Regions from separate parts of the Homo sapiens genome. Here all the other regions are linked to region 3. Evidence: fine-mapped QTL for protein levels in blood plasma. A gene starts in region 3. Each other region holds a variant in brackets. All regions are shown on one strand. Distances are between the middles of the regions.

What was found. PIP is the posterior inclusion probability: the model's chance that the variant is causal. Sun 2018 read protein levels with aptamers (SomaScan).
Region 1: its variant is fine-mapped to the plasma level of the C1QC protein (Sun 2018, PIP 0.95).
Region 2: its variant is fine-mapped to the plasma level of the C1QC protein (Sun 2018, PIP 0.95).

What each region holds. Positions count from the first base shown.
Region 1 is chr1:22,665,528-22,676,580 of GRCh38, reverse strand. No RefSeq gene overlaps it. Among named protein-coding and RNA genes, the nearest start is that of C1QB, 18 kb to the right of the region's middle. The variant C/T (reference allele first, on the strand shown) is at 9,360.
Region 2 is chr1:22,653,805-22,664,857 of GRCh38, reverse strand. It overlaps C1QB (complement C1q B chain), which reads right to left. Exons shown (of 3, transcript NM_001378156.1): 2 at 5,215-5,418; 3 at 3,221-4,046. The coding sequence starts at 5,395. The coding sequence ends at 3,472. Among named protein-coding and RNA genes, the nearest start is that of C1QB, 6.1 kb to the right of the region's middle. The variant A/G (reference allele first, on the strand shown) is at 1,819.
Region 3 is chr1:22,639,068-22,647,067 of GRCh38, reverse strand. C1QC (complement C1q C chain) reads right to left here and starts at 3,435. Exons shown (of 3, transcript NM_172369.5): 1 at 3,354-3,435; 2 at 2,864-3,057. The coding sequence starts at 3,044. It overlaps C1QA (complement C1q A chain), which reads right to left. Exons shown (of 3, transcript NM_015991.4): 3 at 7,390-8,000. The coding sequence ends at 7,661.

The DNA of each region.
Region 1 (11,053 bases), 28 kb before region 3:
GTTGGGGGCAGCAGAAACTGGAGGGACTTAGCAAGAATAGTCCCAGAAGGGGCTTTTGACAATAGTTTGAGGCCAAGCTCCTAGTGAGAGGTGGAAGCTGGGGAGAGGAAAAGGACAAGAATTATGTCACCCATGAGCTTATTTTGAAAAACTGTTGGCTGGGCGCAGTGGCTCATGCCTGTAATTCTAGCACTTTGGGAGGCCGAGGCGGGTGGATCGCCTGAGGTCAGGAGTTCGTAAACAGTCTGGCCAACACGGTGAAACCCCGCCTCTACTAAAAATGCAGACAAATCAACCGGATGTGGCGGCGTGCACCTGTGATCCCAGCTACTCGGGAGGCTGAGGCAGGTGAATTGCTTGAACCCGGGAGGCAGAGGTTGTAGTGAGCCGAGATCGTGCCACTGCACTGCAACCTGGGTGACAGAGCGAGATTCCGTGTCAAAAAAAAAAAAATTGTTGCGTGCCTGCTCTGCGGTGGGTACTGAGAAAATCAGGAGAAATAAGATCAGGCTCAGTGCTTGGGGCCCTCTGCGTACTAGGAAGACAGATTTGTAGGCAACAAGCTCTAGCCCAGTTTCTCAGCCTTGAGAAAGTGACATTTAGGGCAGATAACTTCTGGTTGGGGGCGGTCCTGTGCATTGCAGGAGGTGTTACAGCATCCTTGGCCTCCACCACCAGATCTCAGTAGCAACCCTGTGACCCCAAAAAGGTCTCCAGACATTGTCAAATGTCCCCTGGGGGGATGCCAACCCCGGTTGAGAAACATTGGTCTAGACCATAATCCTGGTCATTTGTTCATTCATTCCACACATGTCAAGTTCATGCCTATTGCATTTGCCTCTTTGAGGAGAGAGTGAAATAGTTAATGCAGGGATGACATGGGCGTGCGGGTTACCAGGAGGCTCCTAAACAGGTGATATTTGAGCCAGACCTAGAAAGAGATGCTGGGACGGAGAAGATGGGAAAGAGGACATTGTAGGCCGAATTGGCAAAATGGACATTCTGGATTCATTCCTTAGAGGTACTCTGAGGGCCTGCTGTGTGCAGGGCATCTCTGGTGATACCAACAAACTGAGACAGCCCCTTTCCAGCATGCAGAGGCTTTGGGCATGCCGAGAAAGGTCTGCACCCGGTTCAGAGGCCGTGGAGGGATCATAAGTGCTTCCCAGGGAAAGGGAGACAGGGGCTACATCTTGAGGCTTAGCAGGCAGGAGATGGGCAGGCAGGAGAAGGAAGGAAGAGATGCAGACAGAGGAGGCAGCCCCTGCCCAGGCTACAGAGCCTGGGAGCCCAAGGCTTTGGGAGAACTACAAGGAGGCAGCTGGAACCAGGGCATGGCATTCTGACAGTGGAGATGGGGGCATGAAGCTGGAGTGGGAGATGAGGAGACGGACCTACCTGAAGAGCCTGGACTTGATACTGAGTCACTGGGGAGCTATGGAGGGCATTTGAGTAGAGGCATATTTTTGTTTTAGAAAAATCACTGTGGCAGCGGTGAGAAGATGGTTGGAGGGGAGCAGGCAAGAGGCAGGGGGACAGTTGCAGTGGTTCAGGAATGAGATCAGGGTGGCTGTGCACAGGGCGTGCAGGGGACAATCCCACAGACACCCGGGAGGTAAAGGCATTAGGATATGGGCTTGAATGTGGGGTTGAGGGAGCTGGAAGAGGCATCTGGGCAGATGATGGGTGTCTAGCAGGGCAGCCCTGAAATGAATCACCAGATTAGAAACACCAGATAAAAGATTGAGCAGAGAAAGATATGTCCGTGGGTCTCAAAATGAACTGTTTTTGAAACTTTTCCCTTATGCTCATCTTTAAATATCGATAACCAACATTTCTAAAGAGCTTAATGCTCTGTGCCAGGCACTGTTCTAAATGCTTCATGTACATTCACTCATTGAGTCTTTAAAACAATGCATCGAGGGAGTTGCTTTCCATCATCTCCATTTTGCAGATAAAGAAACTGAAGCACAGAGAAGTAACTTGTCCAAGGTTAACTAGCTAGCAAGTGGCTGAGCCAGGATTTGAACTCAGGCAGTTTGGCTCTAGAGTTTGTGCTGTCTGCTATGCTATACTACCAAAACATAGAGTTTGTTTAAAGCCTCCTTAACTTTGGCTATTTATAAAGTCCTGTAATCTTAATATAAAAGTAAAAAAGCAATGGCATTTTATAGGTTGTGGTGGTGGAATGTAAAAGTGGAATATCATCTTCTGGAATCTCAGGGAGTAGTTGGAAAGTGCCTACCGCCACCTGGTGGCAGTGTACCCCAAGTAGAGCCACGACAAAGGCTAAACCCAGTTTCTTTCAGTATTACTTTATGAAACTCCAGGCCAGGGTGATAAGAACTTACTAGTAATATATACACTACTATTATGAAAAATGTGTCATCTATGAGGGGGCAGGAAGAAAGAGAGGAGGCTCCCAATGCCCAGGCTGCGGGGTATATACTCTGAGGGACTGTGACTGTGGGTACTCAGGATGAGGTTGCCATGTCCTGTCCAGACCCTCTCACTAGTTCCCTAGACGACCAGCATTAGGCATTTCTGAAACAGCTGGTGGGAGCTAGGGGTGGGGTGGGGCGTTACTCTGCAAACATGGGCTGTACCCATGACCCCGACCTTCTAATCCCAGGGCTTAACTGACTTCATTAACTCCAGGGGGCTTGAGAGAGACCCCTCCCCAAAATCATTATCTGATAAACCATACTCAGAAAAGTCCTATTCCTGGGGGCCATGCCGGAAAACCTCCTGCGTGAAGGCAGGGAACGGGAGGTGATGCTCCTTGGCTGCAAACCCTCCGCTGCGTGAAAGGGCTGGGTCTGCCCCACCCCCTGCCTGCCAAGGGGCAACGAGGGAGAAAACTGGGTGAAAGCAGAGCATGCCGGGTAGCCCGGCCAGGAGCTGAGCGGTCCAGCCTCCCACCCCCCACTGTGGTTGCCATGGCAACTGAGGAGGGGAGGGAGGAGGAGAGGAGAGACCACTCGTCCCTCAGACAATGGGAACCTATTCCAGGTCACCCTTGGCCTTATCCTGAGGGACTCGGGGCAGTCAGCAGTTCTGGGCTCTTTGTACCCTGCAGCATGGAGATTTGGGGGCATAGTCTTCTGCTCAGGCCAGGCCGGGGGGCCCCAGAATGGGGGACAGAATCCTTGCCCTTGGAACATCCCAACCTTACCAGAGCTTACCCCTTCCTGGGCTCCCAGATCCCCCAAGATGAAGTTGGGTTCATTTTCCAAGGGCCCCTCCCCCATGGAATAGTGTGACCTTCTGTTGTGAAGTGAGCAGTGGGCACAGGGAGGAGGCAGCAGCCACTTTGGGGACAGGTCAAATATTTTATGAGTAATTTAATATCTGGAGCGCGAACCACTGAGCGGAGAACTCGTCAGCTGCCGGGAGCGAGAGCTGGTCTGGTCCTCATAACGCAGGGGCAGGGGTGGTGGGCTGACAGGGACGGACCTGGGGCCACAGGGAAGTTAACCCTTTCAGGGTCCTGGGATGGAGCTAGGAAGGGGCAAGGCCGTGGACCTGCCGTGCACCAGATCCTGAGCCATGCGGTTTGGGTGGCTTGAGCACTTTGAACCTGGGAAGGAAGGGTTGGCCCATTGGAAAGGCACTGGCTTTTAAACGGGGGGACCTGAGTTTGGCTCTTGCTAGCTATGTGACCCTGGACTAGTGTGAGCCTGTGTGAGCCTCAGTTCCTTATGCATGAAATGGGGATGATAGTAATGAGATCTATGCCATTCCTACCACGGTAAGAATTGAGCAATAATGAATACAAAGCACTTAATACAGTGCCCAGGACACAGCAGGCCCTCGATCAGAGGACCTGCCTTCACGACTCTGATGCTGTGTGAAGCTTGCCAGAACCCCTTGAAGCCCCCCAGAGCCCCTCAAAGCCCCCAGACATCCTTCATAGGGATCTCCCCAACACCCAGCTGTGTTCTGGATGCCTTTTCTTGTCCCGGGACCACCTGACAGACTTTCCTACCATTCTACACAAGACATAGCTGTGTTCTGTCTCCTGACATTTGCTTTAGCCTCTACTCAGAGTTTCTGCAGAGGGGGTCCTGTCCAGCCTGGTGGCATGGAAGGGGCCTGGGCCCTGGGTCAGAATCCCAGCTCAGCCACATTCCAGTTCTGTGACCAAGGCCAGGTGCTTCACTTCTCTGGGCCTTCATTTCTTCCTCTATGAAATGTGAGTAACAAAGTGCCGTCCTCGTAAGAATGCTGTCCCAGTTAATGAAGATCATTCTGTAAGGAAGCCAGCACAGCACCTGTTACATAGTAGGTGCTCATTAAATGGTGCTCTTCATCATTGATACTTCAAGAGAGTGGCTTCAGTGCCAGACTGTCTTAGTCCATGCCCCAGCTCTGCCGTGGGCTAGCTGTGAGGACTCGGTCAAATTACTTCCCTATACCTCACTTTCCAGATCTGTGAAATGGGCATAACAGTCACACTTGCCTCATGGAGATTAAATGAGTGAAGATGTGTAAAGTGTTTGGAACAAAACCTGGAACAAGGGAGGAGCAAAGTTGGTGCCAGGCTATTCTCTTTTTCTGAGGTTCAGAAGCAATTTGTGAAAAGGCATCTCCAGTCCCCTCCCCTGCCCTCATCCTGCCATTGGGACTGGGAGACAGGTCTCCCAGGCTACCTTTGTCTGGTGCTCGGGTTGCAGCATGGTGAGCTCTCTCCCTGCCCTGGGTTTATCTTTCTGCCTCCCTGAGGGACTCCAACAGCATCAAGGGCTTCTCCTGCCATAGGAATGGCAGGAGCACTGGTCTCAGAGTCACCTACGCACTGTGTGACCTCAGGTACATAACCCCACTCTCCAGAACGGCTTCTCTTGCCATGGGATTCTGCCCCTGCGTTAATCATGAAATCTCCCTTTTCCACGCAGCCTAGTCCTGACCATTGTTTCACTTCCTGGAAAAAATTCCATGTGCCTGAGCTGAGATGAGCCAGAGATCATCTGGTCCAGTCCCGTCATTTTACAGATTGGGAAACTGAGGCCAGGTATTGGCCTTATCACAGTGCTCCAAAAGGAAGAGCCCGGCCGGGCCAGGGATTTTACAGATGAGGAAACCCAGTCCCAGAGACTGGAGTCACTTATCTGAGGTCACACAGTGAGTCAGTGACTCTGGGAGCAGTGCTCCTGCACCTTACTTTGCCCCCAATTACCTACTTTCAATGTTGTTTCACTGAGAATGTCAAAGTCTCTCCCCACTTGGATCCAAGGAAAGGGCCATTCATTGAGCACCTGTGTCTACAAAGTGGGCAGCTCCATTCCCCAGTGTGCCCCTTTTTGTGTTTTCCTGGTTGCAGTGAGTGCCTGCTCCTGGAGAGGGACTACCCTGGGCAGCTTCCAAAGGTGATCTTTATTTCTTAAGAACCCATGGGCACATATATTATGTCCCCATTTTATAGATGAGGAAACCGAGGCTCTGAAGGGGAGAAGTGACTGCAGGTCACACGACAATCAGGCCTGGCCTGGCGGGGGGCTCAATGGGAGACTGTTCTCCCACTCCCCACGCCTGGCAGGACCTGCGCAGGTTTCCACCACGGTGAACTCGCTCTGTATAAAGCCATCATGGCCTAAGCTGTAAAACAGAAGGAATGAAGACATATTTTTCTGGTCTCCTTCCCCGGAAACCAGCTGGGGCTGGGGCCCGGCGAGGCTGACATTTATGTACTGTCTTTAATCACAGTAGCTGACGTATTCCAAATAAGGTCTGGAGACACCTTGTTAACGAGGGCCCAGCTGTCTCTCCTGTGGATACCTGTGCTGGCATGGGGAGCCCGCCCCGAGATATGCTAACTCAGGCCTGGAGCCTGCAGACAGACCCACCCTGTGGCACGGCTCACGTGCTGCCGCCGCAAGCCCTGCAGAGGCAGGGGCTTGTTGGAATGGCTGGAATCCAGGCTGGAGGGAGAAGGAAAAATTTGTCCTAAGGTGGGCACAGGATTTTTGCCTCTTGTGGCTCACCTGAACCTCACAACAACCAATAGTCACATTCCACAGGTGAGGATGCTAACATTTGTTGAGGGCCTACTATGTGTCTGGGAGGGTGTGTGGTTCTTTTGTTTTGTTTTGTTTTAAGACAGGGTCTTGGTCTGTTGCCCAGGCTGGAGTGCAGTGGTGTGATCATGGCTCACTGCAGCCTCTACCTCCTGGGCTCAACAGAGTTTCTCACCTCAGCCCCCCGAGTAGCTGGGACTACAGGTGTGTGCCATCACACCCAGCTAATTTTTTTATGTTTTGTAAATATAGGGTCCCATTATGTTGCCCAGGCTGGTCTCGAACTCCTGGGCTCAAGCAATGCACTTGCCTCAGCCTCCTGAAGTGCTGGAATTACAGGCGTGAGCCACTGTGCCCAGCCTTGTGTTTCTTTATAACAGCCAGATTTTATTTTATGTCTACTATGTGCCAGGTGGGTGCTTTACATACACTAGCTCATGGAATGCTCATAACAATAGTAGCCAATAGAGTTCCATTTTGTAGCCAAGGATATAAAAGCTCAGAGTCGAGGCGACTTGCTTGTCAAGGTCATCCAGCTAGAAGGTGGCAAAGCAGGAATGAACTCGGTAGGGCTCAAGCAAGAAGCCAGTGAGGGAACCTGCACAATGCACCTGGCATGGCACCTGACACGTCGGAGTTGCTTGGTGCATCCTGCTTTGCTTCCTTTGCCTTCTTTTTGGTGGTTGACTTGTTTACGTCCTCTCTTGCTCCACAGATGCTGTAAGGCAGATTATAGGGAGAAGTATGTGATGAAGCAGGGTGCCGTGGCTCACACCTGTAATCTGAGCACTTTGGGAAGCTGAGGAGGGCAGATTGCTTGAGCCCAGGGGTTTGAGACCAGCCTGGGCAACATGGCAAAACTTCGTCTCTACAAAAAATACAAAAATTAGCCGAGCATGGTAGTGTGCACCTGTGGTCCCAGTTACTTGGGAGGCTGAGGTGGGAAGATCACTTGAGCCTGGGAGGTTGAGGCTGCAGTGAGCCATGATCATGCCACTGCACTCCAGCCTGGGCAAAAGAGCAAGACCCTGTCTCAAAAAAAAAAAAGTGATGAGAAGACATAAATGAGAAGAATCTGCAAAAGCAATGGGAAAATGTGGTTGGAAAGGCAGGAAGACGTAGACAGAAATGAGAGTGGAGGCTACAAAGAAAGTATGGGCCAGGCATGGTGGCTTATGCCTGTAATCCCAGCACTTTGGGAGAACGAGTTGGGCAGATCACTTGAGCTCAGGAGTTCGAGACCAGCCCAGTCAACATGGTGAAACCCCGTCTCTACTAAAAATACAAAAATTAGCCAGGTGTGATGGTGCGCGCCTGTAATCCCAGTGACTTGGAAGGCTGAGGCAGATGAATTGCTTGAGCCTGGGAGGCAGAGGTTGCGGTGAGCCAAGATCACACCACTGTACTTCAGCCTGGGAGCCAGAGAGAGACTCTGTCTCAAGAAAAAGAAAGAAAGAGAGAGAGAAAGAGAGAGAGAGAAAGAAAGAAAGAAAGAAAAGAAAGAAAGAAAGGAGGAAGGGAGGGAGGGAGGAAGGAAAGAAGGAAGGAAGGAAGGAAGGAAGGAAGGAAGGAAGGAAGGAAAGAAAGAAAGGTAGGTTCCTAAAGCCCTGAATGCTCTCTGAGCCCTAGTGGGTTTCTCTGGAGGTTCTCGGGCCTCAGTTGTCCATTGGGTCCTTGCCTCTGGACAGTGGTAATGATGCCCACATCAGGGGCTGCTGTGAGGATGACATGGGCTAATGTCTGCACAACGGGTACGTTCATGAGGCTCAGTTTGGCTTCTCCCTGCCTGCTTTCCTTTCCTTCCAGATGCCAAGCCTTCCCCTGGAAATTGTCCCAAGGGCTTAGGAAACATTATTAGTATAGGCCCTATCTTTCCAGGCAGGACATAATTTTGACAGTCCTTCCATCTTACCTTTCTTCATTCCGTTTGGCAGCTATTCACTGAGCATATATTATGTATATCTGTCTCCAGGTCCTATACTCTCTGGAGTCGATCAGTCAATTAATTAATTAACTAATATAGCCATGCTTTCATGCATTCATTTGATAAACATGAATCTTCCAGGCTCTCTGGGCTGTGAGATGTCAGTTTTGGCCTCCTTTGTTCCCTCCTGGGTCCTGGCCGTGTTCTGCGTAGCTGAGGATTCTGGATAAGTAAGGTGTAATCGAGGGACTGGGCTACTGCTTTCTCACTGGTCGGTGACCTTGTCACCATTCATTACCCTTTTCTTGAGGGCATCACCAAGCTCCCCTAGTTCCTAATCAATAGGCTTGGGGTGGGCTTGACACTATCACAGGCTCCCCTGGTGAGTCTGATGCAAGCCCCTCTTTCTATGGGATAGTCTGAGGCTCAGAGAGGGGTAGCAACTTGTCTGAAGTTGCACAGTAAGTCAGGTTCCGAGACCAGCGTAAAACTGGGAGCTCTTTACTTCCCATCCAGGGTGCCTCCTGCTCTGCCAGGTCCCCTCACTGCGGGTGTCCCTCCCTGGGTGGGCTGCTGGGTTTCTCGAACAAACACCCCCTTTTCTCCTGCATCTAGTCAACAGGGTTGTCTATGAGAATGCCTCCTGGCTATGCACAAAGATAAATGCAGCTTGCAGCTTGCTCTGAAAGGATGGCATGTTTGTGTGTGTGTGTGTGTGTGTGTTGGGTAGGGGGGTGGTTTAAGGCAGGGCACCTGGTGCTCCATTGTCAGCAGGAGACCAGAAAGGCGAGGGCATGGAGGAGAAACAGGAGGGAGACCACAATGCTCAGCGTTGGGGAAACGATGATCCACCCTTTGTCCTTTCCTCTGCCTGACCTTGAACTCCCGCATCCTCACCATCAGAACATCATCACAATGAGCACGATAGCAACAGTACGGGTAACATGTTAATTACAGAGCACTTGCTGTCTACCAGCTCCTAGGCTAACTGGTGCCTATGGATGACGGAATTCAACTTCATAACAAATCAAAATGCTGAACCACCGGTTGGTTCTAACCCTGGCTACCTAAAGCGTGGTCCCAGCTCAGCAGCATCAATGCCTCCCAGCAACTTATTAGAAAAGCAAATTATCAGGCCTCTATCCCAGACCTACTGAATTTGAATCCGCATTTTGACAAGACCCCAGGTGATTTCTGTGTACATGAAAATTTGGGGAACGCTTGCACCACCATAGCATCCTGATTCTAAACAACCCATCACCATAACGACAGCTGCTACTTGTGGGGAACTTTCTGTGTGCCAGGGGCTTTGCACACAGAATCCCATTTAATCCTCATCAGCTTTCTGGAGTAGGTCTGATTATCACCCCCATGTGACAGATGAAGAAACTGTGACCCAGAGAGGTTAAGTAATTAGC[C/T]TGAGAACACGCAGCTTGTAAGTGGTAGAGGTGAGATTTGAACCCAGCCTCTCAAAGCCCCGTAGGCTTTTCTTCTTCGCTGCATTTCTCATCTTTTGTAGGTGCTGACAGACAAAAAGTCTTCTTCCCATTTTCTCTCCCCATATAGCCACTGGATTCCTGGGGGAAGAGGCTGCGTCTACTGCTATTCAAGCTTTCATGTTCATTAGCCCAGCCCCTGGCTGGAGGTGGAGGGCCACCTTGAAACCAAAGCAAGGTATTTGAGAGAAGTGCAGATTCCCAGGCCCCTCCAGATATTGTCTAATCTGATGGAAACAGAACCATCAGCACCTCTGGTATGGTAACTGCATGCTAGCAAGTTTCTAGGGGATCTCATTGCACAGTAAAATAGGCGACCCAGTGCCTCAGATTGCACAGAGATTGCAATGCTCATTTTACTGTTAAAGGCAGTGAGACCCAGAGAGTTTTTCTGCCAGTGTCCCAAGGTTGGGATCTGGCAGACGAACTTACAGGAAGGAGTACTGACTTGGGAGTCAGGCAGTGCTGGGCTCAACTTCCTGCTCCTCTTTTCCAAGGTTAGAGCCATATTTGGGACTAGAGAAGGTTGGCAAACTATAACCCATAGGCTAAATTCAGCCCACAGCCTGTTGTGTGCAGCCTGCTAGCTAAGAATGGTTTTTACATTTTTAAATGGTTGAAAAAAAAACAAAAGGAAAATATTTTGTGACACGAGAATATTATGTAAAATTCAAATTTTAGTGTTCATAAAGATGTATTGGAACATAGCCATGCTCACTTATTTATATATTGCTCATGGCTGTTTTCATGTTACAAAAAGAGGGCTGAATACTTGCAACAGATGCTGTATGGCCTGCAAGGCCTAAAATATTTCCTGGTTGCTTACAGAAAAAGGAGGCAACCCCTGGTCTAAAGCAGTAATTCCCAAGCTTGGCTGCATCAGAATCACCTGGGCAGGTGACTGCTGGGCTCCTGCGTCCAATTTTCTGATTCAGCCAGACTGAGATGGGGCCAGAGAATTTGCATTTCTGACAAGTTTCCAGGCAAGGCTGATGCTGGGACCCCACGTTGAGGACGCTGGTTTAGAAGGAACCTGGGTCTTCAAAGCTGACCTCAGCACCTCCCTGGAAGTTCATAGCCCACCCAGAGAGTGGGAAGGCCTGGGGGAGAAGAGAGCAGGGAGGGAGGAGTTTCCACGGTCCCGCGTAACCACCGGTCCCTTTTCCAGGCAGTCCTTGTCTTGGTGTCTGCTCCCCCCTGGTGGCAGCAAGCCTGGAACAGGCCTGGCATGTTCAGCCTTGACAGCCCATCCCTCCATTTGGAAACACATTTCAAAGCCTTCAAAAGTGCATATCCTTTCACCTGGGGAGTCCACTTCTAGGGGTCTAATCCAAGAAAAGAATCAAGGATCTGCGCCAGGACATCACAGGTGCATTGTTTATTTGTATGGGGGTAAAACAGGAGACCAGGGCAGTCACTTGATGGGAGGCACACAGCTAGTGAGAAGCCCAGGCAGGGTTCGGACTCAGGTCTAAGTCAAGAGCTAGTGCCCGCAACTGCCACCAGCACCACCCTTCGGGGATCCTTCTGTCTGCAGTGACAGAGCAGCAGCTCCAGAACTGACTTGCCGGGCGTTGAACCTGGTTCTGTTACTTAACTAATTGCAGAATTTCGGG
Region 2 (11,053 bases), 16 kb before region 3:
TTTGGGAGATCGAGGCAGGAGGAATACTTGAGCCCAGGAGTTTGAGACCAGCCTGGGCAATATGGCAAGACCCCATCTCTATTTAAAAAAAAACAAACAAATCCAGAAGCAACAGCACCCTATGGGAACTGTTAGAAAATGCAAATTCTAGTAAGCCCTTCTTGTGACTGTGATGCTTGCTGAAGTTTGAGAAGCACTGGATTAGAATGATCTACTCCTCAGCTGATTGGGCGAGGAGTATCCTGATTCCAAGCAGGGGCAATTGCATCTCTCTCCTGGGAACTGGGGATTGGAGATGTTAGACTCTGTGTCACTTCTATGAAAGATGGGGGCTAACTTGGGGGTCCAGACGTCATCTGGGGGCATCCGCTTGCCTTCACAGTTGAGAGGGCAGTTCTGCAGAGAGAGATGCAGAAAAGAGAGGTCTCAGAGTAATATCCCAGTCCGGGTCTGGGGGGCACCCAGGTCTCAACCCTGTGTCCACTGAGACTGAGCAGCTCCCCTGCTCCTGGGTTCTTCTGATTACTCCCTTTTTTCTCCCAAGTTTGTTTGAAGGGGCTTCTGTCACTTGCAAGTAAAAGGGTTCTGGCATGTTGAGGGATGGGGGTCAGGATCAAGGGGGTGCATGAGGTTCAAGGGTCATAAGCCTGAGGAGAGCCACTTCCCTTCCTTTCCCTGCCCAACTGCTAGCCCAGGCAGAAGATTTGAGTCCCACTGCCTCTGAGAATGGGACCAAGGGGAAAAGGAAGGTGTCTGGGCAGTGATAAAACAGGTGAGCTACCAGGACTCATCTCAGATCACTTCTGGGTTCCCACACTGTTCTTGGTCCAGGTTCTTGTAATGAAACCTCACTCATCTCCCCAGAGAGCTGTAGGAGCAACCCTATCCCAACTGGTTGGAAAAGAGCCATGATAAAGGTGAAGGCTGAGTGCAGTGGCTCACATCCATAATCCCAGCACCTTGGGAGGCTGAGGCGGGTGGATTGCTTGAGCCCAGGAGTTCGAGACCAGCCTGGGCAAGATGGTGAAACCCCATCTCTACAAAAAAATGCAAAAATTAGCTGGGTGTGGTGGTGCACACCTGTAGTCCCAGCTACTTGAGAGGCTGAAGTGGGAGGATTGCTTGGGCCGTGGAGATCGAGGCTGCAGTGAGCCATGATTACGCCACTGCACTCCAGCCCGGGCAATAGAGCAAGACCCTGCCTCAAAAATAAATATAAATAAATAAATGTGAAGAGTCGAGATGCATGCACGTCTGCGTAGAGCAAGGGATGTTGGACTATGATGGCCATGGCTAGACACACAGTCAGAGCCTGGATTTCTGGCAGGTCTGGAAGCTCCTGGGAGGGCCCGACAAGGGCACTGTTATGAGTGTCCTGACTGCGGGGGTCTGGTGGAGGACAGGGGGCAGGGTCAGGGTTTATGGGTCAGGGGTCCGAGGAGGGTTGGTCTTGCAGAAGAGCCAGGCGGCCTGACAGCAGCTCCCGAGACAAGCAGGCAGGAGCGTGGAGCTCTGACTTCTCAGACAAGCCCGGCTCTGCCTGGGTCTGTGCAGCAAGATGGGGTGCTCTGCGCATGCTCGACACCAGCAGCCAGCTCTGCTTCCGGGTGCAGTGTAGCCTAGCAAGGATGGACCCAACTGCAGAGGCTCGAGAATGTGAACTCCTGAGGTCAGATGGGTTCAGGTGAGAGGTCATGGGGCTGCAGAGGGGGGTTGCTGCAGAAGGGGTTCCAACAGATGTGGATGGCAAGGAGGTGATGAAATCTGAGGCAAACAAAAGCAGGCTCCAAACCTGGCTGTGTAGCTGTCAGCTCTGTG[A/G]CCCTGGACAAATTGCTTGCCCTCTCTGAGTTTTATATTTTTTGTCATGTAACCACATGAGGATGATACTATGTTCCTCCTAGGGGTTGTGGTTGGGAATTAAATGAGCTGATGTGCGCAAAGCACTAGATACACAGTAATTCAATTGTGGTGTGACCATTACTATCATAACTATTAGTATTAGAGTCAAAGGCCAGGCAGTTTGCATTGAAAGGGTTGAGCAGCAGAAATAAGGGCCAGCTCCTGGAGAAAAGATTCTAGGTCTCGGTTGGACCTAGTCTGGGGTTAGGGCAGGTCATCAAGGCCAGGCCCCAGGCCCAGGAGATAGGGCAGAAGCTGCACCCAATGAATGGAATCCTGAGAGACAGGCCAGCCAAACAGGAGGCTGGACTGGTTGACACGGGTGGGACTATCTTAAATCCCTCCCATCTCAGGTCAGGATTGGTTGAGGGTCTTGATGCTGGGGCTAGTAGGAGAGGCTGAGGAGAGCAGGTGCAGAGCTGGGCGGGACTCTGGAGTCCTAGTCCTGTGGTCTCAGCCAATCAGGCAATAAATCTTTACTGAGTGGCTGCTGTCCATCATGGGTTCTGTGCTGGCTCAGAGATGAGCAGGGTGCAGAGCTACAGCCTAGCTGGGGAGACAGGGTGAGGAGCCAAATGCTGGCTGTGCACGCTCTGGGGTAGAGGAGGCCAGAGGAGTGAGCGTGCGAGAGCTAGGGTGTTCCTGCTTCAGGGAGGAGGTGTGGCTTGAATGAGGATGGGTAGATGGGCAGAGTGGAAGGCTTCTAGGTAAGGGAACAGTGCGAGGAAGGGCACTGAGGTGGGCTTGTTTAGAAGACAGAAAGGCCCAGTAGAGTGAGGCTGGAAGGCCAAGTTCATGGGCTGGGACTGTATCTGGTGGGCAGTGGGGAGCCACTGAAGGTTTTTGAGCGGGGGAGTGACATTTACTCTAACTGGATGGCTGAGTTTGTGCTAGGCTGAGAAGATACTGGGAGGAAGGGCATGTGGGGAGAATAAGAAAGGGAAAGGTTCCTGCTCCAAGGTCAGTTAAAGCCTTGGAGGATGACCCCTTGATCCTTGGTAGGGGTAACAGGAAGGGACAAGCACAGAACCCCTTTAGGGGCTGGCCTAGACATGTTGCCTTTAAAAAAGGTCTCAGGCCATCAATGGGCAGGCCTGCCCTTGAATCCCAGCCCTGCTGTGAGATTGTGGACAATCCCTTCATCCCTTCTGATCCTCAGTTTGCTCTTCTGTAAGCTGGGCACGATGCGCCCTCTCCCAGGAGGAGTGTGAGGATTAGTGAGAGAATCAGGAAAAGGTGTAGGCTACCACTGGGAGCATAGTTGGTGCTGGACCCCCACCTCCCACTGTGTGGCTGGCACAGAGCAGCACACGGACAGAGATTTCATTCATTCATGGTTCATTCATTCATGTAACCAACATTTCTGAGCATGGCACTTCTGGTGTGCCAGGTGCTGGGACACAGAGTTGAATTAGACCACTGTCCCTTGGCCTTGAAGAGTTTATTTACTCATTCACTCAGCAGCATTCACCAAGCCCTACTGTGTGCATTGGTTGGGCAAGGGGTGGTGTTGGGGGTAGAGTGAGCGTTGCTGGCAGGGGGAGCCGGGGTGGATGTGAAGCAGCCCACAGGTCAGGCCTCCATATCTGGAAAGAGCAGGAACCCGGAAAAGATGCTGTTGGCACCCTCCATGCCCAGTAGTGAGTTCTTGTCGGTGGCCTGCAGGAAGACGTTCTCCCCCTGCTCCAGCTTGAGGACCATGCCACCGGTGGTGACCTGGAAGGTGTTGTAGGCATAGTCACAGAAGGTGACCACCTTCTGTGCACGCTCCCGGCCACGCATGAGGTTCACGCACAGGTTCCCTCGAGAGCTGGCGTGGTAGGTGAAGTAGTAGAGACCGGGCACCTTGCAGGTGAACTTGCCACTGCGGGGCTCATAATTGTTGTTCATGTTGGTGATCACGTGGTCGAAGCGGATGGTCTGGTCCCGGCGCAGGGGGACGTTGATGGTTCTTGTGGCAGAGAAGGCGATTTTCTGGGTGGCCTTGTAGTCTCCCGATTCACCTTTGGGGCCTGGGGCTCCAGGGGCCCCTGGGCCACCTTTAGGGCCCATGGGGCCCTTGGGGCCGACTTTTCCTGGATTCCCAGGAATCCCTGGGTCTCCCTTCTCTCCGAACTCACCATGGTCTCCAGCCAGCCCTGGAAGCCCTGGAAAAGCAGAGACCAAAGAAGTGAGATCACTGAGACCAAAAGAAGGAGGCCTGCGCTGGAACCTTGGGCAGGGCCCTGCCTCTCTCTGAGCCTCAGTCTCCCATCTGTAAAACGAAGGAGGCAGTGTCAGGCAGGGGCTCTGGGTCTCCCTCCAGCCCAGCTTCCTGAGTCTGTGATATGCTTGACCTTCTTGGGGGCTGCTGATCGTGGGGAGGGGAATGGCTCCTTGCTAAGGAAGGTGCTAGGCCGGCCCTCCTCCCCAGCTTGTGTGGGGGTCCTTCTTCAGCTAGAGCAGGGATAATGAGTGCTGTCTCCCTCTATCCCTCACCCCTGGCAGACATCCCTAATCAACCATGGCCTTCACTCTTGCTGCTCCTGGAAATGGACTTTAGACTCCTTCTCACTCCACCCCCCAAGCAGCCACTACCCCTTGGTTTGGCACAACACAAGATAAGACCGATTTTCCAGTAGAGTGGCAGAGAATAGGGCCTGAGAAGATGGGATCTGGGGACAGAGAGATGTGCTTTGCGTGTCACATCTGCCATTAGTAGTGGTGTCACCTTGACTGAGTCACATTTCCTGAGGACAGCCTCCTCATCTGTGAAATGGGGATGAAGATATTTTGTGGGATTGTAAGGATTAGATGAGATTATGTGAGGAGAGTGACTGGCACAGACAGTTGCTCTATAACGGTAGGTTAAATGAATGAATAAACCAAATTTTACAGAGGGGTTTTCAAGGCTGGGAGTCTCATTTGAACCCCATGACAACCCCAAAAAAGTACCATTGCCCCCATCTTACAGGTGAGGAAATAGCAATTCAGAGAGAAGTCATTTGCCCAGGAGGTAAGTTTAAACACAGGACTCTGTGGCCACAGCGGCACTCCCTCTCCACCTGAATTTAATGGTAAGAGATCCGTGGTCTGGTCTTAGCCTCAACATTTACTGGGCTACCTTGAGTAAGTCAGCAGACTTTCTAGATGCTAGTTTTCCTCTCTGTAAAATGGGAATCAGAATTCCCTCCTTGCAAAGTTACTGCAAGGGTTCAGCAAGCTGCTGGATTTGCCAGTGCTTTTGCAGTCTCAAAGGTAGGCAACTGTGACTTGGGAGGCAGGAGACGGGAAATTTGGTCAGTATTACCAGTGTCCTGCTAAATCCCATGGTACCTTTCTCTCCTTTTATCCCTGGGGTCCCAGGTTGGCCATCGGGGCCAGGTGTCCCAGGGATACCCGGGATGCCAGGGATGGCTGGGGGCCCGGTGCAGCTGAGCTGGGCCTGGGAGATATCGATTAGGCCCAGGAGCAGGAGCAACATCAGTACTGGGATGCTGCCCCATGGGATCTTCATCATCATACTGTGTCAGACGCCTCCTGTGGAGAAGACAATGTGAGAGGTTACCACCGTGGTGATCCTATCATCCATCCATCCATCCATCCATCCATCCATCCATCCATCCATCCATCTCTCTATTCCTCCATCTGCATCCATCCATCCATCCATCCATCCATCCATCCATCTCTCTATCCCTCCATCTGCATCCGTCCATCCATCCATCCATCTCTCTATCCCTCCATCCCTGCATCCATCCATCCATCTCTCTATCCCTCCATTCCTGCATCCAACCATCCATCCATCCATCTCTCTATCCCTCTATCTGCATCCATCCATTCATCCATCCATCCATCTATCTCTCTATCCTCCATCCCTGCATCCATCCCTCCATCCCCCTGTCCATCCATCCATCCATCCATCCATCCATCCATCCATCCATCTGTCTCTCTATCCCTCCATCCCTGCATCCATTCATCCACCCATGCATCCCTCTGTCCATCCCTGCATCCATCCATCCATCCTCCTCTCCATCCATCCATCCATCTCTCTACCCCTCCATCCCTGCATCCATCCATCCATCCATCCCTCCATCCTGCTGTCCATCCATCCATCCCTCCATCCTTCCATCCCTGCATCCCTCTGTCCATCTGTCCATCCATCCACCCTCCATCCATCCATCCATCCATCCTTCTGCCCCTGCATCCCTCCATCCCTCTGTCCATCTATCCATCCATCCGTTCATCCATCCATCCCTCTATTCCTCCATCTGTCCCTCCATCCATCCATTCCTCCATCCATATGTTCACTGATTGTCCCCTATCTACCAGACTCTGTGCAAGGTGCTGGGGATTCAGTGAAGAACAAGACGGATACAGTCCCTGCCCTCCTGGACTTGTGCCCCTAGTGGGGACAGATATAAACAGGTAGATATAAATGGGTCAGCATAAAGTAAATAGAAATAGTGATAGACCGTGATTGGTGCTCTGAAAGAAAGAGAAGGATGCTGGGAGGCAGAGTAACTGGGCTGGAGGTGGGAGGTGGTGGGTTTTGTGAGGGAAGTCCTCCCACCAGGAAAGTCTTCTCCAAGGGGAAGCCACTCTTGGAAGTGATGATTAGGCTGAGACCTGAAGGTCCAGAAAAGGTGGGGGCAAGAATGTTCCAGGAGGACAGAGAATATGGAGAAGGCCCAGAGGCAGGACAGAGGTTAGGATGTTGAGGATCAGCAGGAGGCCAGTATGACAGAGGGGAGCAAGAGTTCAAGTGACAGGAAGCAAGAGTGGAGAGGCAACTAAGCTACTATGAGTTTGGGGTTTTATTCCCCGAAAGCTCTTATTCAGTAGAGCTTCTGAATTCAGGGTATGATGCTGCTTATGAACGGGCCACCTTGCATGCTTAGAGCATCCCTGCATCTACTGTGATTCCTACACCAAAGGGGACACTGAGGCTCAGGGAGGCCAAGTCACTTGCTCAGAGTCATACAGGAAGGAATGAAGCCGATGTCCCTGCCAGCATACCAGGCTGTTTCTGCTGGTAGAATATTCTCAGAGCTGTGACTCTGGCAAGAGGGCAGTGATGGCCCCTTTTTAATCCCAAAGAACTAGGAAGAAGCCGGTGGGCTGTCTCAAACTGGTCAGCATGGCCAGTGTTCCATGCCATTAGCTCTCAGGACAAAGTGGCCTTTAAGTTCATCTAGTTTAACCCTCAGCCTATATATTTTTAACTGAGGCAACATTCCTACAACATAAAATTAACCAATTTAAAGCAAGCATTTTAGTGGTATTGAATACATTCACAGTCTTGTGCAACCCTCACTTCCATCTAGTTCCAAGACTTTTCATCACCCCAAAATAAAACTCTATGCCCGTTAAGCAGTTTCTTCTCAATCCTCCTTCCCCCAGCCCCTGACAACCATGAATCTGCTTTCTGTCCCTATGGATTTACCTATTCCTATTATTTCATATAAATGGAATTATACAACGTGTGACCTTTTGTGTCTGACTCATTTCATTTAGGGTAATGTTTTCAAGGTTCATCCATGTTTCTATGTTGTAGCATGTATCAGTACTTCATTCCTTTTTATAACTGAATAATACTCCATTGTATGGGTACATGTGATATTGCAAAGTATATATTTGGTCTTCTACCTCTTTCCTGGCAGACAACTCCTAAAATCCTTAGAATTTCCAAAGTGAGGTATTTTTGTATGCTAATGATTGATTGATGGCTGCCAGCCCCTAGGTAGCTTCAGGATGGGGCTCGTCACCAGGAAGACCAAGGCAGGCTTAGAGGGTCTACTCTCAGCCCCACCCCCCAACCTCTGGGGAGGGGAGTGGGGCTGAAGGTTAAATTGATTACCAATGGTCAATGGCTTAATCAATCGTGCCTACATAATAAAGCCTCCATAAAAATCCCAAAGAACTAGGTTTAGAGAGCTTCCAAATAGCTGAACACGAGGAGGTTCCTCGGGGGCAGCATGCCCAGGGACCTGGGCATGACAGTGGCACGCCTCTTCCCTCATACCTCACCCTGAGCATCTCATCTGTATCCTTTATAGTATTGTTTATAATAAACTTGTAAACGTGTTTCCCCGACTTCTGTGGGCCACTCTAGCAAAGAATCCAAACCCAAGCAGGGGGTTGTGAGAACCCCAACTTGAAGCTGATTGGTCAGAAGTTCTGGGGGCCTGGACTTGCAAATGGTGTCTGAGGGGGAGCAGTCTTGTGGGACTGAGCTCTCAGCCTGTGGGGTCTGATGCTATTCCTAGACAGTGTCAGAACTGAGTGGAAAGACACCCAGCAGATTTGATTGCTTGCTTGGTGTGTGGGGAGAAACCCCCCACATTTGGTCACAGAAGTCTTCTGTGTTGATTGTTGTGGTGTGAGAGCAGAGGAAAATACCGTTTGTGTCTTTCCACTTACAGACCTTCCACTTACACACTACAATTTGGTTTTGGGGTTTTTGGTTTTTTTTGAGATGGGGTCTCACTCTGTTGCCCAGGCTGGTCTCGAACTCTGGAGCTCAAGCCATCCTCCTGCCTCAGCCTCCTGAGTAGCTGGGATTACAGGCACGCACCATCTCGCTTGGCTATTTGTTTATCCACTCATCATTGGTGGACATTTGGGAAGTTTCCACCTTTTGGCTATTGTGAAGAGTGCTGCTATGAACATTTGTGAACAAGGATTTGAGTATCTGTTTTTAATTCTTTGGGGTTTATACCCAGGAGAGGAATTACCGCTTATGGCAATTCCATGTTTAAGTTCCTGAGGACCCTTCAGCCTATTCTTAAGTTTCCTCAATGACACCTCTGCCAAGGTCCCCCGTGTGGTGCCTCAACGCACTCCCCTGCTGCACAAACGTTGTGTTCACTCAGCCCTAAGAACTAATCACAACGCTAGCTGCACATCACATTATTTCCTTGGAAGAGTCAAGCTGAACTTTCTCAGCAGAGTGTGAGGAAATGACATCTCTGCCAAGGGCTCTTCCATCCATAGTTTGCACCGTTTCAGTGATGGGCAGCTCATTACCTCTCGAGGCAGCCCATTCCACCTTTGCCCAGATCCAAATGTTTTTTCTTCATTCGAAGCTTGGGTCAAAGCCTTCTTCCTCCAGGAAACCTTTCCTCAGAGGCTGAACTGTATCCTCTCTTAAAATGGGGGAGCAGAGTGGTCTCTGCCTACTTCCCAGAGTGGCCACAGGGACCCAGGTGAGACCATGGATGGGAAAGAGTCATAAAGCCTTGAGCCCCAAGCTCTCATTGGGACTTGTGGCTGCTACTGCTATTGCTGCTGTTCTCTGATCCTCTCAACACCCTGGGGAAGTGGGTTGTGATTAATTTCCCATCTTGCAGATGAGGAAACTGAGGATCGGAACTTAGAAAGCAACCTACCCAAAAATCACCCAGCAAACTATTCTAACAGCAGGGTTGTGGCCAAACTCCTACCCTCTCTGCCACATGCTGGCTGTCCCAACCCCAGAGTCTGGCATGTGGAGGGCTCCCTGGGACCAGACAAGGCCTACTGATATTTGGCTCCTATGCTCTGCAAACCAGCCTCAGCCCCTCAGCCTAGTCCTGATCAATTTCTTGCTGAAAGCCCTGAGTTATGCCAGACACTGTGCACCAAGGAAAGGAAGCTGTAAAGATGAGTGTGGCCAGGGAATGCTGGTGACAGCTTTAGGTTCTGTCAGGCTCTATGCTCTGAAGACAGGGTGGCTCAGGGGCATGGTCCTGCTTATCCATGAATAAGCATCAGCTCTCACTCTTGCTCTTGCTAAAGGTTTTACAAAATGGCAATTTAACAACTTTAATAAGTTGGGTACGTATAGGCCAGGCTCTGAGCCAGATGGCTTGCATGCCATTATCCCCTGTAATTTGATATTCAGCCCCTGAGAATGCACTCTTGCTTTCTTATTTTACAGATGAGGCAACGGGATCAGAGAGGGCAAGCACCTTGATAAAAGTCACACAGCTCCTGTGTGGCTGGGAGTCAAACCCACATCCACTGGATCTTAAAACTCAATGTTATGTTAAGAGGCCACTGTACCTGGTGGTAAAAACATAAACTTTGAAGCCAGACAGCCTGATAAAAGGACTAATGCATGGGACACACCAAGGGTAGTGGTAGGCACATGGTCAGTGTTCGGTGAAAGTGGCTTTTTACCACCACGATGATTGCTGCTCTTGTTAGGCAGCACACATTCACCTGGTGGCGGGAGCCTGTAGTGTCACAAGGAAAGCAACACTCAGCGTTCACATAAGGTCTCTACTGCTTCTTAGCTAAGGGACTTGGGAAATCACTCCTTCTCTCTGGCCACAGTTTACCCTCCTATAAAGTGGGGATAATGCTACTCTCTCCCTCATAGGGTATGTGCGAGGACATGAGTTACAGCTTCCAACAGAGCCTGGCATGTTGGAAATTCTTAATGAATATTAGCTATTTTATTATTATCACTGTCATCCAAGAATTCCTGAGTGGTTGAACAGAAGGGAAGATGGTTGGAGAAGTAAAAAAAGACAATCCCTTTGAAAGACTGTGTTTAGAGGGAGGGGCTCTGTCAGTTGGAGGCAGCAAGGGGTGGAGAGCTGTGACCAGTTGGTGGGGAGAGAGGGTGGGGAGCAGGGTACTGACAGGACTTGGGCTTCCTGGGGAAGCCAGGGGCAGGGGGAGTGGGAAAGTGCTGGTTCTAGCCCATTTCAAAAGCCACCGAGTTTCAGCCTTGGGTTAGGGCTTACAACTCATCTGGTTTAACTGCCTCCTGCCTGTGCCAGCCCATCATCATTGCCAGCGCGGTTTCTCCTGTCCTCCCCCCAGGCTCTGACCTTTCCATCTCCTTCGGTCCAGCAGTCCCTTTCCGCAACATGGAGTCAGGCCCACTTGACTTTAAAGCCCCATCTGCTACCGGCTGCATAACCTCAGGCAAGTGCCTTAACCTCTCTGAGCCTCTTGGCAATGCTGATTTCAACCTGACAGGGCTGCCAGAAGGATGACAGGAGAAGGCGCTTAGAAGAAATAAGGTCCCCCCTGCCCCGTGCAGTGCCACATCCCACTCCCCAGCTGCACAAACATTGCGCTCACTCAGTACTAGCTGAGAACTCATCGTAACTCTACCTGCACATCCCCTTATTTCTTTGGAAGAGTCAAGCTGAGCTTTCTCAGCGAGTATGAGGAAATAAGC
Region 3 (8,000 bases):
TTTGGCTGGAGGGGAGAGAGAGAGTCTGGTTCAAGTCCTGCTTCTCCACTGACCTGCCCTCTGACCTTGTCTAAGGCACTTCCCTGTCTCTTGGCCTCAGTTTCCACATTTGTGATGAAGCAAGTAGGGAGCTCAGAGCTGGGCGGGATCACAGATGCCATGACTGTCAGCCCACGGACAGATGGCATGTGGCCACAAGTATCTTGTTTGGCCTGCACAATGTTTTTTAAAATTTTTAATTGGAGCCCAACATGAACAAATTCAGAACTTATTTAAAATTTGAAATTCTCAGACCTTCTTGACAAAAAATCAGAAGGTTGGTCAGAGGCAGCTTAAGTTTCAGGTTCTGTCCACTTGCATCAGCCCCTTCAAGACCTTTTGCCTAATTTTGTATTTCTGATTTTTTTCAACTTTTTTATTTTGAAATATAGAGTCAAAGAAAGTTGAAGAAACAAAAGAACAGGGACTCTTCACCCAGTTTTCCCCAGTGACACAGCTTGTATGACTAAAGTATAATGTCAAAACCAGGAAGCTGACATTCCTAGAATTCACAAAGCTTATGTAGACTTCACCAGTTTTATATACACTGTGTGTGTGGTTCCAATATAATTTTGCTACATGTGTAAATTTTTGTAACCACTCTCACCTCTGCAATCAAGCGCATCTTTCAGTTTGTATTATTTTTCATAAAGAAGACCCTCAACATTTTACAAGCTTCAGAGTCCCACAAAACCTATATCTGCTCCTGAGATGGATTCCCCAGGTTAGCACATGGGAACCACTGGAAGGAGCCGAATAGAAGCCGCCCCACTGCAGGGCCTGCTCTCTCCAGCTCACCCCAGCCCCATTCAGCCCACGTCAGCCCCCATGACAGCTGGCCTGGTTCAACTTCCCTCATGTTGCCGATGAGGAAGCCGAGTTAGAGACTTGCCCAAGGCCGTGCAGCCAGTTTGAGGTGGAGTCAGGTCTCTAACTCAAGTCTGGAGAATCCCAGTGTCTCACTCTGTTCCAGCCCTGATGATCTGAGCCTCTGTGAGATTCTTCTCCCCTTATCTAAATCATACTCATCTTTTAAGGGCTGACTCCAGTTTCTTCTTCCAAGAAGCCCTCCTTGACCGCTCCCATCAGCCCTCATGTTTCCTTTCCTCCTCTGACTTCCGTCAGGCTGGGTGACTGTGCAGACCCATTTATGACAGATCCTCTATGGCTTATGAACCTCTTAGGCCTCAGCATTAGGAGTGTGGGGTCGGGACCCAGCAGACCTGGCCTTCACATCTGTGACCCTGGGTGGGTGACCTCCCTCCCTGAGCCTGTATTTGCTCAGTTGAGATACGGGCATAATAGAAGAGGGAGTCCCTGAAAGGGTGGAGTGGGACAGGCACTGTGCCAGGCACACCATAGGAAGCGTGCTCTGGAGTGTCTGGTCCTCGTGATGGCTGCCAGTGATGCTGAGCAGAGCAGCGTCTCATCCTTCGTGATGTCTTCAAACCACCAATTGAGAGGGGGCCAGGAAACAGCAATACAGAGGGGACTTGAGAGGCAGCTGAGGGCAGTGGTGGAGAATGTGGACTTGAGAGTTGGACAGGATCCCACTGTGTGACTTTGGACAAGTTGCTCAATCTCTCTGAACCCCAGCTTTGACATTTGCAAAATGAGGGTCAATCACTTTTTCAAGGGATTGTGGCCTCGGTTTTATCATTTCCTAAAACTGAGACCACACCTGGGACTTGGGGGCTCAATCACGGGTGGCCATCAGCTACCCTGGGCAGGGAGGTGGTCAGAGGCAGCTGTGAAGTACAAGCTCCTGGAAAATGGCAGACCTGGAGGCCTCATTGAGCTTTGAGCTCACCCTAAGCTCACCCTAAATTGGAGAATTCCTTCTGGAATGTTGGTGCCATTCCCTCTATCCAGGAGGGAAGATGATGGTGGGACCACTCCTAAGGACATTCCTCTCAACTGGCCTCCCTCCTTTCCACTGCCTCTGTCACCCCATCACCTCCGCTCAGTGTCACCCCAGGCCGGCTCCAGGCATGCCTAGCATCTGAGACGTGCCCAGCTCACTCACAGACAAGGCACTCATACCCCCCAGGGCTCCAGTTCCAGCCCCAGTCACCCATTCATAGCCTCAGCCCCCTTCTCTTATGCCAAGGATTGCCTGTGGACCTCCAACAGAAGTTTCTCTGGCTGCGATCCTGACCTCCTACTCCCCACCCCTCCAACTATCCAGAATCCTAAGGAGGGAGGTGAGCATGGATATCTGATAAAACCAATGATAAAATAGCCTACACCTGTATAGACCTCCCAGGTGCTCAGGGCTGTTTTATATTTAAGTTAACTTAATCCTCACAGCAACCTTGTGAAGCAGGTGCTACCATCTCCTCGTTTTACAGATGAGGAAACTGAGGCACTGCGAGGTTAAGTAACTTGTGCGGGTTCACATAGAGGGAATCAGTAGGGGCTGGGATTTGAACCCTGGCAGTCGTGCATTGGATATATTCACTGTGTGGGCCCCAGCTTCCCCAGGTGCCCATGTTGCAGGGCAAGAAGACTTTCCCTGCACTGTCTCCTGTGAGCCTCCTGGCCACCTTTGGGGGCAGGCGCTCTTATTCCCTCCCTATAATCGGGTAAGGAGGAGAAGGAAGATGGAAGTGCGCTGGGCCCAAGGTCACCTCTGGGGTGGCCTGAAGCCTGGGCTCTGAGGATAGAGGAGCCAGACACACCGTGAGAGTCCACCTCTGCCCTGGGGCAGGCGTGGCAGCAAGGCAAGCACTTCCTGCTGTCCCCCGCCCCCTTGGTCAGCCCCAGACAGACACTCTGATCCCTGCCCCAGACCCAAACCCCCAAACCAGGCCAGCAGACTCACCTGGCTCCCCCTTGGGCCCCGGCAGTCCGTCGTACCCATCCTTCCCTGGTGCCCCGGGCAGGCCGGGCATCCCTGGGATCCCGTAGCAGCCTGTGTTGGCTTGGCCCCTGAGGGGCAGCAGCAGCAGGAGCAGCAGCAGCTTCAGCCCAAGGTGGGGCAGGGAGCTGGGCCCCACGTCCATCCCGGAGAAGGAACTGGGAGGGAGAGAGCTGAGCTGTCCCCGCCAGCCCCTCACCTGCCCCCAACCCTCTCATTCCCCAGGGCCCGTCCTCCTCAGCCCTCGGGAGCTCGCCTTCCTTCCTCCCCCAGGAGCCTCACCATGGATGGATGGTGGGGCCTTTTCTTCAGCCCAGGCCCCGGGGCCCAGCAGGAGTGGGAACCCTCCTTCCCCTCACACACCAAGCTGCCCCTGGCACCACATTTCAGGAAGGTGGCGGAAGGTGGAGGAAACGGCCATCTGCCCATACCTGGGCAGGGGTCCGGGCCTCACCTGCAGGTGGGCGGTTTCTGGCCTGGCACAGAGATGTCCTCAGATCTGCTTCCCCTCTCCCAGGCAAGAGGACACGGTGTCTGAGTGGTCAGAGCAAGGATTGCCCAAAGCAGGGCTGGGCCCCCTCCCCTTCTCGTGCCCTCCCCCAATCCCACATCCCCTTTCCCAGAATTTTCCCTGACTTGACACTTTCTTTTGGGTGCTGAGCCAGACTGACCACAGCAATACCCCATCCACATCCCCCCACCGGCAGTCAGTGTCCGAAATGAGGAACTGTCCCCTGCCCCAGCATCTGGCTGAGGGTGTGTGTGTGTGTGTGTGTGTGTGTGTGTGTATAAACACAAGCCCCCAGGGCACAGACGTCCCCCAGAGTCAGGTTCATCCCATCTAATGACCAATGTTAGCATTTGCTTTGCCTGAGACTCAGTTTTCCCAGAATCCCTAGGAGGAAGTTATTATCCCCCTTTACAGATAAGGAAACAGGCTCAGGAGGATGTACACCGTTGCCCAAAGTCACACACTGAGTGGTCTCTTGGGGCCCAAAGCCTTGCTCTGACCCCTCTGCTCAGCTGCCCCCAGAAACAAGCCTCACATGCACTTGTCAAGTTGCAAGCCTTGTTCTAGAAACTTCCATGTGCCCCATCCCAGTGGCCACACTTGGAGGTGGACCCCCAGGATGGACCCGCTTTGGCGGCAGGCAGCTGTTGTGGTGCACGGGCTGCCCTGGCTACAGAGCCAGGGCCCTGGCTTCTCCTTCCAGCCCTGTCACTGCATGGACCAGATGCCTTCAGCAAATCACTGGTCCCTCTGGCCTCCCTTCTGTCTACTGGGGTGGCCTTGGCTTTCAGTATTGGTGCCTCTTCCTTCGTTGGGGCACCTGGTCTTCCCTGACGGTTCCATCTTCCCTGCCAACACCACCCTCCTTGCCTGCATCCTGGGGGTGCCCTGCCTCTGGGCTTGGAGCCCACCATGGCTGGTGAGGGGCTCCCCATCAGGACCAGGCTGGCAGAGCTGAGAGGCCTTCTCCCCTCTCCCTCTTCTCCTCACATGAGATTCTAGGGATGAAGGGGCTGTCAGGCAGTAGCAGGGCTCCAGCCTCGACCCCACACCTGCCACCTGTGTCCATTGGTTCCCCCTCTGTAACATGGAGGCTTCTTACAGCTCCAGGCCAGTGGCTGGGATTCAGTGCACAACACACGTGTGATGCCTTGTCCCGTGCCAGGTATGGGCAGGTGTTCAGAGCTCTTCCCCTGCCTCACTGAGGAACCCTCAGGGTCTCAGTCTCCCCTTCTGTGTCTCCACCACGTGCCATGGGACTGCAGAGAGTGTGGGGTGAGTTAAGGGGCATGAACCCACTTGGCCCTAGGAGTCCCTGGTGGGTGGAAGCCTGGGCCGAGAAGAAATGATGGATACTGCATTATGGGGCTGGGGGCCACCCAGCCTAACGGCTCTGGGCTCCTCTCCTCCCTCTTCACCTCCTCTGCGCCTGGGTTCGGCTTGTCCAGCAGGTGGCAGCCTCGGCCCACGCTCAACCCTCCCGTGCCCCGCCCACTTGGCCCCGCTCCGGGCAGCTCCAGTTCATTCCCCTCCCAGAGGGGCCAGAGATTTTGCATCGGGGTAGTGGGTGGATGGTGGGGTATGGGTAGGATTTAGGGTAAGGGGGTGGCCGGGCACTCACTGCACACCCCATTTCTCTAGCTTGGCCTCTACTGCCGCTGATGGAGCCTCCACCCCTGGCATTTTCTTTGCGTGCCCTAACCCTGTGGGGTCAGGCACCCCTGGCTCAGCCCCAGGGCCCTTCCCCTTTCTGGCTGTGTGTCCTTGGGTGGATGTCTGCTTTCTCTGAGCCTCAGTGTCCACATCGATTTTGCTGGGATTAAATACATCAATGGCCGTGGAATGCCCAGCACGTTAGGTTCCCGAAGACCTGTCTCTTTTCCCGGTGCCTGTGAAACAGTGTGTGTTCTGGGTGAGCGAGGCGGGGGGAGAACAGGGCTGAGCTGACTCTGGAAGGGAGCTGAGGGCTACCCTGAGGCTGTGGAGGGTTCATCCTCTCCCTGGGCCCCCCTCACTTCTTCCCGACCCCCAAAGCCTGTTGGCAGGGCAGGGGCAGTCCCAGGAGGGGGTCTTGTACTTTAGAGGTGGGTATTCAGGTTGTGCACTCGAGGACCATGAGGCCATTTGTGCATCTGGCAGTGGATGGGAGGGACAGCCCGTGTTTCTGAGGATGGCCCTGTGGGAGTTTGAGTGTATGTGTGGGTGGTGGGGGGTCCGTGTGGGAGAGAACACAGGCATTCTGAGGCTCGTGCATGCTGGAGTGAGGAGGATGTGTGTCCCCGGGTGAAAGGAGTGTGTCTGGGACACATGCGTAAGAGAGAGAGAATATGCGATGGTTCATGGATGTTACTTGTATGTCTGAGGCAGGGGCTGTGTGGTATGATGGATTGTGCCTCCCTGAGTGTGTCTGTGGGTGTGAAGGCATAACTGGTGTGTGCGTGTGTGTGTGTGTGCAGCACAAAGCTAAACCCAGCTTCCTTTGAGAAACTGCATGGTGCATTGGACATTTTCAGATCTGAACTCCTGGCCCCCTTATTTCTCCTGCATTCGAGGGACAGGGTGGGGTTTGCTGCTTCATAGTAGCTTCCAGACAGACAAATAGGGCCCTGGAATGCACTGTGAGCATTCAAGACTCTCCCAGCCCCCAGCCTGGGCGGAATGTCCATCAGGCAGCAGAGGCAGCAGCCCTGGTCTCCACACCTGCCAGGTGGAAGCCCAGGGCTGGACTCAGGAAACCTAGCTTCAGGAAGGACTGCGGAGTGCCCTTGGGCCAATTGCTTCCCCTCTCTGATTCCTGCCCCTGCCTTCCCAACACAGGGTTGAAAAAGCACCTGTGTGATGTGTCATGTGCTTCATAGAAGCCAGGGAGGCTGGTGAGGGTAGTGGTTAAACACAGGCTTGGGCATCAGTAAGACTTGGGTTCAAATCTCAGCTCCTTCCCGCCTCCCCACCCTCCAATTTTTTTTTTTTTTTTTTTTTTTTTAAGAGATGGAGTCTCGCTCTGTCACCCAGGCTGGAGTGCAGTGGCGCGATCTCAGCTCACTGTAACCTCTGCCTCCCTGATTCAAGTGATTCTCCTGCCTCAGCTTCCCAAGTAGCTGGGACTACAGGTGTGCGCCACCACCCCTAGCTAATTTTTGTATTTTTAGTAGAGACAGGGTTTCACTATATGTTGGCCAGGCTGGTCTCGAACTCCTGACCTCTAGTGATCTGCCCGCCTTGGCCTCCCAAAGTGTTGGGATTACAGGCGTGAGCCACTGTGACTGGCCCCCAGATCCTCCCCTTAGATGCTGATTTGCTGATTGATGCCTACTCCTCGCAGCCTCAGTTTCATCATCTGTAATGTAGGGCCATCATACCATACCCAGAGCTTGGTCATAAAGATTAAATAAAATATAATAATAGCAAAAATTTCCATAGCCCTTGTTATAAACTGAGCACTGCTCTACAATTTTCATATATTAAGTCATTTAATCTTCCCAATGACCCTTTGGGATCATCAGTCCCACTTTACAGATGAGGAAACTGAGATCTCAGAGCTGGGTTAACATGCACATGATTAGACAGCTAATAAGTGGTGGCATCAGGATTCGAACCTGGGTAGATGAGGCTGCTAGGACATGCTAAACACATCATGTGAAATACTAAGAATGGGCTGGGCGTGGTGGCACATGCCTCTAATCCCAGCACTTTGGGAGGCCAAGGCTGGAGGATCACTTGAGGTCAGGAGTTCGAGACCAGCCTGGCCAACATGGTGAAACCCCTTCTCTACTAAAAATACAAAAAATTCACGGGGCATGGTGGCAGGTACCTGTAATCCCAGCTACCTGGGAGACTGAGGCAGGAGAGTTGCTTGAACCCGGGAGGCGGAGGTTGCAGTGACCGAAGATCACTCCATTGCACTCCAGCCTGGGTGACAAGAGAGAAACTCCATCTTAAAAAACAAAAAACAAAAAAACATACTAAGGACGGGCCTGACTCTTAAGCACTGGATTGTTATTATTCTTAGGCCTCCCTCTCAATGCTCCGAGTAGCAACTGAAGCTCATGTTCAGCAGACACAGACACAGATGTTTATTCCAGGAAGAGGTCTAAGAAACGAGCTTCTTAGAGCATGTGTCACGGGGCAGCCAGTCCTGGGGCTCTCAGAGCCAGCCCCCTCCCTTCAGCAGCTGAAGCAATAGCGCCCCCATTTTACAGGCGGAGCATGGAAGCCAGAGAGGTGGGTGGGGGAGGGGGTCCTTCCCTGGCTCAGGCAGATGGGAAGATGAGGAAGCCGCTGAAGACGCTGTCGGCCTCAGAGCCCTGGTAAATGTGACCCTTTTTGGGGTCTTTTTCAACCCAGACCTGGTCACCCTGCTGCAGCTGAAGCACCATGCCCCCTGACACCACCTGGAAGAGCCCCTTGTTGGTGGTGTCACAGAAGCCCAGGGAGCGTCGGACCTGGCCCCTTGAGGAGGAGACGATGGACAGGCAGATTTCCCACTGGGACAGCACCTGGAAGGTGAAGTAGTAGTAGCCGGGTACAGTGCAGACGAATCGGCCGGAGTGGTTCTGGTACGGTTCTTCCTGGTTGGTGATGACCGTGTCG